Homo sapiens: one gene and its partners. The protein of the gene in region 3 purifies or fractionates together with the protein of the main gene of each other region. This does not show direct contact. Each region holds a gene or a part of one and is shown on either strand. Other genes may lie near its edges. The genes, in order: VMA21, PICK1 and ATP6AP2.

The links.
Region 1: the proteins of ATP6AP2 (region 3) and VMA21 purify together in Homo sapiens (affinity purification with mass spectrometry; 4 studies listed by BioGRID and IntAct, with this or other methods). This does not show direct contact.
Region 2: the proteins of ATP6AP2 (region 3) and PICK1 purify together in Homo sapiens (affinity purification with mass spectrometry; 3 studies listed by BioGRID and IntAct, with this or other methods). This does not show direct contact.

Annotation. Positions count from the first base shown.
Region 1 is NC_000023.11:151,400,056-151,403,705, forward strand, and holds part of VMA21 (vacuolar ATPase assembly integral membrane protein VMA21), read left to right. Parts: intron 1-3,575; coding exon 3,576-3,650. UniProt on the Homo sapiens protein: Required for the assembly of the V0 complex of the vacuolar ATPase (V-ATPase) in the endoplasmic reticulum.
Region 2 is NC_000022.11:38,070,839-38,074,488, forward strand, and holds part of PICK1 (PRKCA-binding protein), read left to right. Parts: coding exon 1-53; intron 54-843; coding exon 844-906; intron 907-1,638; coding exon 1,639-1,772; intron 1,773-2,161; coding exon 2,162-2,254; intron 2,255-2,934; coding exon 2,935-2,985; intron 2,986-3,468; coding exon 3,469-3,613; intron 3,614-3,650. UniProt on the Homo sapiens protein: Probable adapter protein that bind to and organize the subcellular localization of a variety of membrane proteins containing some PDZ recognition sequence.
Region 3 is NC_000023.11:40,594,436-40,598,085, forward strand, and holds part of ATP6AP2 (renin receptor precursor), read left to right. Parts: intron 1-2,813; coding exon 2,814-2,909; intron 2,910-3,091; coding exon 3,092-3,229; intron 3,230-3,650. UniProt on the Homo sapiens protein: Multifunctional protein which functions as a renin, prorenin cellular receptor and is involved in the assembly of the lysosomal proton-transporting V-type ATPase (V-ATPase) and the acidification of the endo-lysosomal system.

The DNA of each region.
Region 1 (3,650 bases), about 110 Mb from region 3:
AAATCTTATTTACAAAAGTCCCTAATACCATGCAACTTTATTGCCTATAGTCCTCTTGTACATTAGATATCTCACTTGTTAATCCATATATCTACTGCTTTGTGTCCTTTGATGTATATCTTCCTATTTCCTCCCCTCCAGCCTCCCACCCCCACCGCCATGGTAACTACTGTTTTATTCTCTGTCCCTGTGTAGTTGACCGTTGACCTTTTTTTTTTTTTTTTAAAGATTCCACATATAAGTGAGCTCATGTAGTATTCGTCTTTCTGCGTTTGGCTTATTTTACTTAACATGTCTTCCAGGTCCATCCATGTTGTGGCAAATGGCAGATGTCCTCTTTTAAGGCTGAATAAAATATTCCCTTGTATATATACACTACGGTTTCTTTATTTTGTCTGTCTACATACACGTAGGTTGTTTTCAAATCTTGGCTATTGTGAATAATGCTGCAATGAACATGGAAGTGCAGATATTTTTACGAGGTAGTGATTTCATCTCCTTTGCTTATATTCCAGAAGAGAGATTGCTGGGCTGTGTGGTAGTTCTATTTTTAATTTCTTTAGGAACTGTTTTCCATAATGGCTGTACCAGTCTACATTTCCAGTCACAATGTAGTAGGGTTTCTTTTTCTCCACACTTTTACAAACATTTGTTATCACTTGCCTTTTTGATAATAGCTGTCCTTAGAAGTGTGAGGTTATATCTCATAGTGGTTTTGATTTGCATTTCCCTGATGATTTAGTGATGTTGAGCACATTTTCATTTATCTCTTGGCCATTTTTATGTCTTTGGAGAAATGTCTGTCCAGCTGTTGTCCATATTTTAATCAGGTGGTTTTTCTGCTGAGTTGTAAGAGTTCTTTATAAATTTTGGGGTATTAACCCCTTACAAGATAGGTGGTTCGCAAATATGTTTTCCTAGTCTGTAAGCTGCCTTTTCATTTTGTTGATTGTTTCCTTTGCAGTACAGAAGCTTTTTAGTTTGATGCAAGCCGCTTTATTTTTTCTTTTGTAGCCTGAGCTTTTGGTGTGATATCCAAAAAATCATTACTGAGGCCAATGTTAAGGACCTTTCCCTCTGTGTTCTTTTATGTCTTAAAACTTTATATCTTTATGTTTTAGTTATTTTATCCATTTTGGGTTGATTTTTGTTTATGGTGTAAGAGTCCAGTTTTTTTCTTTGCATGTAGAAATCCTGTTTTCCCAGTACCACTTATTGAAGGGACTGTCCTTTCCCCATTGTGTTCCTCTTAACACCCCTGTCGAAGATTAGTTGGCCATATATGTTTGGATTTATTTCTGGGCTCTATTCTGTTTCATTGTTATATGTTTCTGTTTTTATGCCAATACCATATTGTTTTGATTACTATAACTGTAATATTTTAAATCAGAAAGTGTGATGCTTACAACTTTTTCAATGTTGCTTTGGCTATTTGGGGCTTTTTGTGGTTCTGTATGATGAATTTTAGGATTGTTTTTCTATTTTAATGAAGAATGCTACTGTAATTTTGATAGAGATTGTGTTATATCTGTATGTTGCTTTGGGTGCTGTAGACATTTCAACAGTATTAATTCTTCCAATCCATGAACACAGGATATCTTTACATTTATTTGTGTCATCTTCAATTTCTTTCATCAGTGTTTTATACTTTTCAGTGTACAAGTCACTCATCGCCTTGGTTAAATTTATTCCTAAGTTTCTTTTTTTTTGAAATAGAGTCTTGCTCTGTCACCCAGGCCAGAGTAAAGTGCCCCAATCACTGCTCACTGCAGCCTTGACCTCTGGGGCTCAAACAATCCTCCCACTTCAGCCTCTTGAGTAGCTGAGATTACAGGCACGTGCCACCATGCCCAGCGAATTATCAAAATTTTTTTTTGTAGAGGTGGGGTTTTGCTGTGTTACCTAGGCTTGCGTCAAACTCCCGGCCTCAAGCCTCAGCCTTCCCAAAGTGCTGGGATTACAGGCATGAGCCACTGAGCCTGGCCCCTAAGTATTTTTTTTTAATGCTATTATAAATGAGATTGTTTTCTTGATTTCTTTTTCAGCTCAGTAAAGGATGCGGAAGTTTGTCAAGTGCTTTTTCTGCATCAACTGAGATGATCCTACTTGGTCATAATATATAATCTTTTTGATGTATTGGTTTTGTTTGTTTGTGACAGAGTCTTGCTCTGTTGCCCAGACTGGAGTGTGATTTTGGCTCATTGCAACCTCTGCCTCCCAGGATCAAGGGATTCTTGTGCCTTGGCCTCCCAAGTAGCTGGGACTATAGGCACACGCCACCACTCTCAGCTAATTTTTGTATTTTTAGTAGAGACTGGGTTTTGCCATGTTGGCCAGGCTGATCTCGAACTCCTGGCCTCAAGTGATCCGCCTGCCTCGGCCTCCCAAAGTGCTGGGATTACAGGTGTGAGCCACCACACCTGGCCTGATTATTGTTGAATTTGGTTTGAAAATATGTTATTGAGGAATTTTGCACCAGTGTTCATCAGTGATGTTGTCCTGTAGTTTTCTTGCTGTGTCTGTCTGGCTTAGGTATCAAGGTGATTGGAGCCTCTTAAAACGTGTTTGGAAGTATTCCCTCTAGCTCGATTTTTCACCCATAACAGAAGTTCCTATTCCAGCTGGGGAGGGCGCACTGGTCCGTTCGCCCTGCCTACCTCCTTCAGTGGTCTGGTGTCTGGTGCTGGTGGTCAGGGTTGCTGCACGGGCTCAGGGACTGGTGTGGCAGTGGCTTCCCTGGGCCAAAGCTCTGATCCCAGTGGGGGAGGGCACGCTGGTGCGTCGGCTCCACCTGGTTAGTTTGCTGGTCCACTGTCTGGTGCTGGAGGACAGGAGGCTGGCAGCTTTCCCAGATGCAAGCTCCGATTCCAGCGGGAGAGGGCACACTGCTCCACCTGTGGTGCCTGCCGAGTTCCCTGGTCTGGTGTCCGGTGCTGGTGGTCAGGGTTGCTGCGTGGGCTCAGGGACCAGTGTGACAGTGGCTTCCCTGGGCAAAAGCTCTGATTCCAGTGTGGGAGGGTGCACAGGTGTGTCTGCCTCGTTAGTTCCCTGGTCCACTGTCTCATGCTGGAGGACAGCAAGCTGGTCGCTTCCCGTGACGGAAGCTCTGATTCCAGCAAAAGAGGGCGCGCTGATCCACCCATGGTGCCTGCTGCGTTCCCAGCTCTGGTGTCTGGTGCTGGTGGACACGGTTGCCGCATGGGTTGGGCACTGGTGCCGCTGTCCGCCGTGGCTTCCCTGGGTAAAAGCTCCAGTTCCAGAGGCAGGGGCACTGAGTTTCTTCACTTAGTTTGTTCACCCAGCTTGTTGGCAGTTGATCTGAGGTGCCCTGACGCTTCGTCTTACACTGGATATGAATGACAGTCCCTAAAGGTGGTGTATAATCTTCATGTTCCAGCTCAAGAAATTCCCACTACCCACAGCTGGTTCTCTAGGATCTTCGGATTACGAGTCCCTGCCTGTGATCTTCCTCCTGCATAGCATCTCATTTGTGGATGTTTATAGTTTCAGGGACATAAGAGCGTTTGGATATGACTGTGCAGGTTCTGATTTTCTCTTTGTTTACTTTATTCCAGAAATGAAAGCTCATTAGCATCTACACTGAAGACGCTCCTGTTCTTCACAGCTTTAATGATCACTGTTCCTATTGG
Region 2 (3,650 bases), on a different chromosome or scaffold from region 3:
TGGGCTTGTCAAGAGGCTAGAGGAGCTGGAGCGGACCGCTGAGCTATACAAAGGTGGGTGGGGGGTGGCCTCGTCCTGGCACTAGCTCTACCCCAGGGAGCATGCTCTCAGCAGAGTGGCAACAGGGGTGCTGGCACTAGGAATGCCAGCCTACAAAATACTAGGACCATGGGCATTAAGAGTTCTTAAGAATATATACTTCTTCTGAATTTAAAAATAACTCAGGGGCCTGGTGCAGTGGCTCACGCCTGTAATCCCAGCACTTTGGGAGGCTGAGGTGGGCGGATCACTTAAGGTCAGGAGTTTGAGACCAGCCCGGCCAACATGGTGAAACGCCATCTCTACTGAAAATACAAAAATTAGCCAGGCATGATGGTGTGTGCCTATAATCAGTACTCGAGAGGCTGAGGCATGAGAATCGCTTGAACCAGGGAGGCAGAGGTTGCAGTGAGCCAAGATCACACCACCGCACTCTAGTCTGGGCAATAGAGCAAGACCCTATCTCAAAAAAAACAAAACCTGATACTCATAAAAATTCAGAGAATAGCACTTGTAAACATAGCGAGAGTCCCCCGGAATCCCACACTGTCCCAGGGCTAAAGCCCACAGCAGGCTGTGTACCCCTGCATCTTACAAAATGCTGGCGCCCCTGTCTGATGGGGCTCCTCACGGGTTGGGTCGGACTGAGCTTTTACCCCTGGGCTGTGGTTGGGCGGTGGGGAAAGGCCATGTATCAGGGCCTAGCAGAGGCCTTGGGTGGCATGGGCAATTGGAGGCCTTGCCCTGGGCCAGTGTGGTCCCCGCCATGCGTCCCCATTCCGCATCACTCGGTCTCTCCCACAGGGATGACGGAACACACCAAGAACCTCCTACGGGCCTTTTATGAGCTGTCGCAGACTCACCGGGGTAATGGCATCCCCCAAAGCTGTGGTGTGACCGTGGGCAATCCCTGGGGCCTCTCACTCCCATGCTGAGGTGGGTCAGACCCACAGCGCCTGACCTCAGGCTCCCTCTGGGCTGGGCCTGGTCCCAGGTGCTGGGATTTGCGATGGGCCTGCGGGGAACATCTAGATCAGCTGGTCTCTTAAGGGCCGCAACGATGAACAGGCCCCACCCTGTCTCCTCACACTGCCACTGGCAGTACACAAGGCCCTTGCTTATTTATATTTCTGACAACCTGTAACTCTGGGCAGGCCGACTGCAGCTGACCCCAGCTACTGCAGAAAATGAAGCCCAGACAAAGGAGAGGGCCACACTGCTCCCAAGTGGTGGAGCTGTTGTTCCAATCCAGGTGTCTAGACTCGGACCAGTGTTCTGCCTCAGGCGGCGCCACCTCCACAAACCTTGACCCAGTCTTCTCTCACTGGTCCCTCTGGGGAATGAGGGCCAACTCCCTTGGTGTGTACACTCAGGACTCTAGGGGGCACAGACCAGCTCTTGGAGGTGTCAATCCAGTTTCCTCCAGGTGTAGACTCAGCTCCTTCAGGGGGTTTAGACCAGCTCTCTTGGAGGTGTAGCCCCTGTGCAGACATTGGCTTCCAGCCTGCCAGGCCCCCTGCCCTGCTTCTCCCCAACAAACCCCTGGCTTCTCTTAGGGGGCCAAGTAGGGGCAGCCTTCAAGGCAAACTTGTCCTGCAGCCTTTGGGGACGTGTTCTCCGTGATCGGGGTGCGGGAGCCCCAGCCAGCTGCGAGCGAGGCTTTTGTGAAGTTCGCCGATGCCCACCGCAGCATCGAGAAGTTCGGCATTCGGCTTCTGAAAACCATCAAGCCGGTAGGTCCTATTGAGCATGTGTGTGTCTGGCGTGTGAGGGTGGGGAGGGGAGAGTGTGGCATGCAGAGAAGGTCGTATGCTGGAGTCCTGTGCCTGGGTACAGCCTCTGGCTCAGTCACCCACACAGTGGACTGTGGGTGAGTCACTGTGCCCCCTTGGGCCTTGCCATTGACCTCTGGGCTGGCTTCTGACCCTGGCTCGCCACTGAGTCACAGCTTGCCCTAGGCCTGGCACTAGTCTTCTCATCCTTGAGAGGGACAAGGCATCAGGGAGCACCATCTGGCTCTGATAGTCGAGTCCACCAACAAGGGTGACGCATCAGTGCCATTCATTGTCACCCTGGCACACCCCTGCCGTGACAGCCTCAGCATCCACCCACCCTCTTCCAGATGCTGACGGATCTGAACACGTACCTCAACAAAGCCATCCCGGACACTCGCCTCACCATCAAGAAGTACCTGGACGTGAAGTTTGAGTACCTGGTGAGTAGTCCAGGTGCCCAGGCTGCTAGGGCAAGCGCCCACCCTGGAGATCTGCCCCACTTCAGTCAGCCATGCTGCGGCCAGCGAGGCCAGCCAGAGCTGACAGCATGTCTGCTCCAGGTGTGGGCCCAGAGGCCCAGGGAGGTGCAGCCAAAGCCCTGCTGCGCCTGCACAAAGAAGCATCTGAGAGCCTGGGGCGGGCATGGCTCTCGCTGTGTGCACTCTGACCCCTTGGGATTTGTTGCCTTTAAACAATGGGTTAGACTAGGTGAGTGAGCATAAAATGGGTGTCAGTGAACGTTCGTGAGTTTTACATTTAATTATTCTACAGTCAAAGGAATTGAGAGAAAATGCTCTATTAAGCAAGCCAAGGTTCCTTTGCTGCAGGACTTATCAGAGCCTTTGCTAGGCTGATGTGCAGTGTGAATTTTCAAGGGTCTTCCTAAGCTCCTTTAACGACAGACCCCTTTTTCCCCAGAGCATCTCTTGGGCCTTGAGTTTGGTCAACTCGGCCGCCTAAGCCTCAGGCCCTGTCATCCCTCAGCACCTGCCGCTGCCCGCTCTGGGACTCCCTGAACACCTGCGCCAGCCTCTCCTGCTGCGTGTGGGTGATGGGGGTGGAGCTGGGGACCTGGGGTGGGGGTAGTAGCCACTCTGACAGCCTCACCTGTCCCACACAGTCGTACTGCCTGAAGGTGAAGGAGATGGATGACGAGGAATACAGCTGCATTGTGAGTGTTGGAGGGGGTGGGGGGCTTGTACTTCCCCCCACCTGGTCTGCCAGGGATAGCAGGTGGCTCAGGCCAACCCGGGAGAGACCGGGGGGACTTGGCTGGACTCTCGTTCCTGGAGATTTAGGGCCATCTTCCCAGTCCCGCTCGCTGGGCCTCGGGGTGCTGGGCACCCGGCCGGGAACCACTCCCTCAGTCTGGGGGACTCTTGGAGGGAAATCGGATTTTCTTCACTCCTATGAGGCGCTTTTAAGTGTTTGATTTTTCTGCTGTCGGGATCCATTTCGTGGCCAGTGTTCATTGAATGTGGCAGAGGTTTGGGTTTGGTTTTTTCCTCTCTTCAAAGCTATCACTGAGTGCTTCTGAGAAACACTGAAGTCTCAGAAATGAGGTCTCAGGAATGAAGAACAGCCGTGGCTTTGAAAGCACAGTGCGGTGCGAGGCCGTCCCTGAGCAGGCACTCCTGTCCCACCCCCGCCCCAGGCCCTAGGCGAGCCCCTTTACCGGGTGAGCACCGGCAACTATGAGTACCGCCTGATCCTGCGCTGCCGCCAGGAGGCGCGCGCCCGCTTCTCCCAGATGCGCAAGGATGTGCTGGAGAAGATGGAGCTGCTGGACCAGAAGCACGGTGAGCGCCGCCCTCCTCCCCGTCCGCTCTCCATTTC
Region 3 (3,650 bases):
GATTGTGTAGTATGAGCTAGGCTGAGTATTATTTGCATTGTCATAATAATGAAATGATGCTGATCAAGTGAAAATTTTGATATAACTATTGGGTAAGAGTGGGGAGATAGAAACAGAAGCAGAGCGCATGGATGGCTCAGCGCATGGATGGGGCAGTGGTTGGTGATGTGAGAGAGCTAAAGCCTCATTTTCTATAATGGATAGTAAATAGACAAGACCTAAAATTGAAAAATCAGGAGATGTAATTTAAGTGTCTTATTTAGAGATGTTAAAAGCAAAAAAAGTCAACAAGAAAAGATAGTTGGAATAGATGCACTCCTAAATAATTCATGGGTTGAGGAGGAAATCACTGTGGAACTTTTTAAATTATTTGGAACTGAGTAACAATGAATGTAGCATTTATTTACAAAATTGGGAGGTGCAGCTAACGTGGTAAGAAAAGGGAAATTTATAGCCTTAAATGCATGTTTTAGACAATTTAGGTTGTCTAAGAATGGAAATTAATGAGCTAAAGAAAGCGGAAGAACTTCAGAGTAAATACACATAAAGTAGAAGGAAGGGAACAATACAGATCAAAAGGCAGATTATTTCACAGGGAGCATTTAAGTCATTTTTTATGTGATTTCTGTGAAAATCATTGCAGAAGATTTTCTTTAAAATTATAAAAATCCAAAATGCCATTTTGAGATTTTTATTAGCATGTAATCCAAAAATAAAGATTTAAAAACAGACTAGCCTCATTTTACATGAGAAGAAGCTGTGCTGTGTGAGGAGCTCATTTTATTGCTTGGCCCTGGTTGGCTGCTCAATGCTTTTCCTAGCAGAAGATGGTAAATGAGATAAAAGATTCAGGGGCAAACCCCACAAAACATAAAAATCAGAGTATCTTAGAATTCCATTTAACGAAGCTTCCATTTGATTAGCTAGCTGTTTTAGTTAGAATTTCAAGTCATACAGGTACAGAAATTTGAGGACAGATATGCATCTCCCTTACAATACAGTGAGAGAAAAACCATCATTCGATATTAAGCAGCCAAGCTTTTTACTTTTTGAGCTTAGCTGCCTATATAATTATTTCTTTTCCTTCATTGGTGTTCATTTGATTCATGAGCTGCTTCAATTTGATCGCTATGGACATGGTTCCTAATCTTCAACTTTCCTGAACCGAGCGCCATTTCACTAAGTGAAGTGAGGCTGGAAAGTTTGCATCATTTGCTCATGTATTCCCCTCACAGCCTGAGGAGGTAAACTCTATGATCGCTAAAGGAAAGCACCTATAGATGATTCAGGGCGGCTGCTAGCAGTATGCTTTTGCAACTTTGAACTCTCTTCCCCCTCTTCACTTACTCATTAACTCATTTTGAGAGAATTTGGGGAAGAGTTAATAAGCATCTTGAGTAAGAGAAAAAAATTATTTCATTTCACAGAATCATAAAATTGATCACTTAATATTGATGCTGGGCCTGGGCATGGTGGCTCACGCCTGTAATCCCAGCACTTTGAGAGGCCAAGGCAGGCAGATCACATCAGGCCAGGAGTTTGAGACTAGCATGGCCAACTTGATGAAACCCCGTCTCTACTAAAAATACAAAAATTAGCCAGGCGTGGTGGTGCGTGCCTGTAATCCCAGCTATTCAGGAGGCTGAGGCAGGAGAATCACTTGTACCTGGGAGGTGGAGGCTGCACTGAGCCGAGATCGCGCCACTGTACTCCAGCCTGGGCAACAGAGTGAGGCTCTGTCTCAAAAAAAAAAAAATGTGATGCTGGGATTTTATCAGTAAGACATAATCACATTGATTTCTGCCTGTATCATATTAGCGTTACTTTGCTACTTGTAAACATGAATCTTTAAGTAGTAAGGGAACTACTGAATGAAAGATCAATGTAAGAAATCTCCATTAAAACAAAAACATGACTGTACTGCTTGTTTTAATACAGTAATACTGGGAATGAAATAATTTTTTTAGGGGAAAAATAACTGTAATTTATTTTTTTAAATCATGTACTGCAAAACAAATCTATGGGGATAGAAGTCAGAATTTTTGTTACCCTTGAGGGTGGAGGTAGTACTTCGAGGGCGCTGATAGTGTTCTGTGTCGATCTGGCTGGGCTACCTGAGTGCATGCATGTGTAAACATTTGTTGAGCTGTTACCCCAAGATTTGTATACTATATTATATGTATTTTGCACTTTAATAAAAAAATTGAAGGAAAAAAGTAGGTCTTATCACCATTGGTTATTTCAATCTAATAATATCAACATGTCCTAAGATAAAGGCTTCAAAAACCTTGTGACATACTTAACACCTTATCTAAGAGTCTTTAGGCTATCTGAAGACAAATGTTAAATCTCATTAAACATTTTTAAAATTTTGAAATGAAAGATGAATTCCATTTTTATTTCAATTAAATTCAATACTCAGATTCCTCTAACCTCTTAAATGCAAATTAAATACTTTATTGTGGAATATGCATTCATCGTGGCACATTTAGTCAATATTGAAACCAAATGTATTGCTGCTTCAAATACATGAATGACCACCAGAAAATGGTTTGTGCTAGATATAGTGTTGTGTCCATCAGGTTTAAGTTATTTTCCACTGAGGCATGATGGGAGATACAGACTTGGCTTACCAGGGGGCTGTTTAATCTTCTGTGCCCTCAAAAGGGCTTGTTTGGAAATGATTTCGGGCTTCTAAATTTCCATAGAAAGTGCTGGAAAAAAGTTTAAGGCTTCTTTTTAAATACCATCTGAATGATTTTTCTTCCCACTTTGGTTCACATAATAATTGCGTTCTTACTCTTAAATTTCAGGCAGTTCCTTTTAGTCTTGACAGTGTTGCAAATTCCATTCACTCCTTATTTTCTGAGGAAACTCCTGTTGTTTTGCAGTTGGCTCCCAGTGAGGAAGTAAGTGATAAGGGTTTTATTCAAGACATTTTAAAAAATAAGCTTTTATTATTTGAAAATTATGAAATGTAATTTTATTATGAAAATATAAAACTAATTTATGAACAATGTTGTCATACCTCTGGGTATTGGAACTAATCTGTAGAATTTGAGCAACTTAAAATTTTCTATTCTTCTTACAGAGAGTGTATATGGTAGGGAAGGCAAACTCAGTGTTTGAAGACCTTTCAGTCACCTTGCGCCAGCTCCGTAATCGCCTGTTTCAAGAAAACTCTGTTCTCAGTTCACTCCCCCTCAATTCTCTGAGTAGGAACAATGAAGTAAGTGCAGTTATTCAATGAATACATGAATATCATTAATTTCCGTCTTTTTAAAAAATAGAGACAGGGTCTCACTCTGTTGTCCAGGCTGGTCTTGAACTCCTGGCCTCAAGCAATCCTGTCTTGGCCTCCCAAAGTGCTGGGATCACAGGCTTGAGCCACTGCATCTGGCCTCCCATTCCTTATACTACTTGAAATTTTGGAAATTTTGCTATTTTAGAAAATGAAAGATTGTGCACATTTACTGCTGGGGTAGATTCTTCTTTAGTGTAATTTTCTTATGACTCTCATGAATAAACTGATCCTTTTTGTGAGTTGAGCTGTGGTAAATAACATCACATTTTAGCACGAGGGTTGCCACCTATTAATTCAAACAAGCCAGAGGTCATAGATCTACTTGGTGACTGGTGGAGCTGTGTGG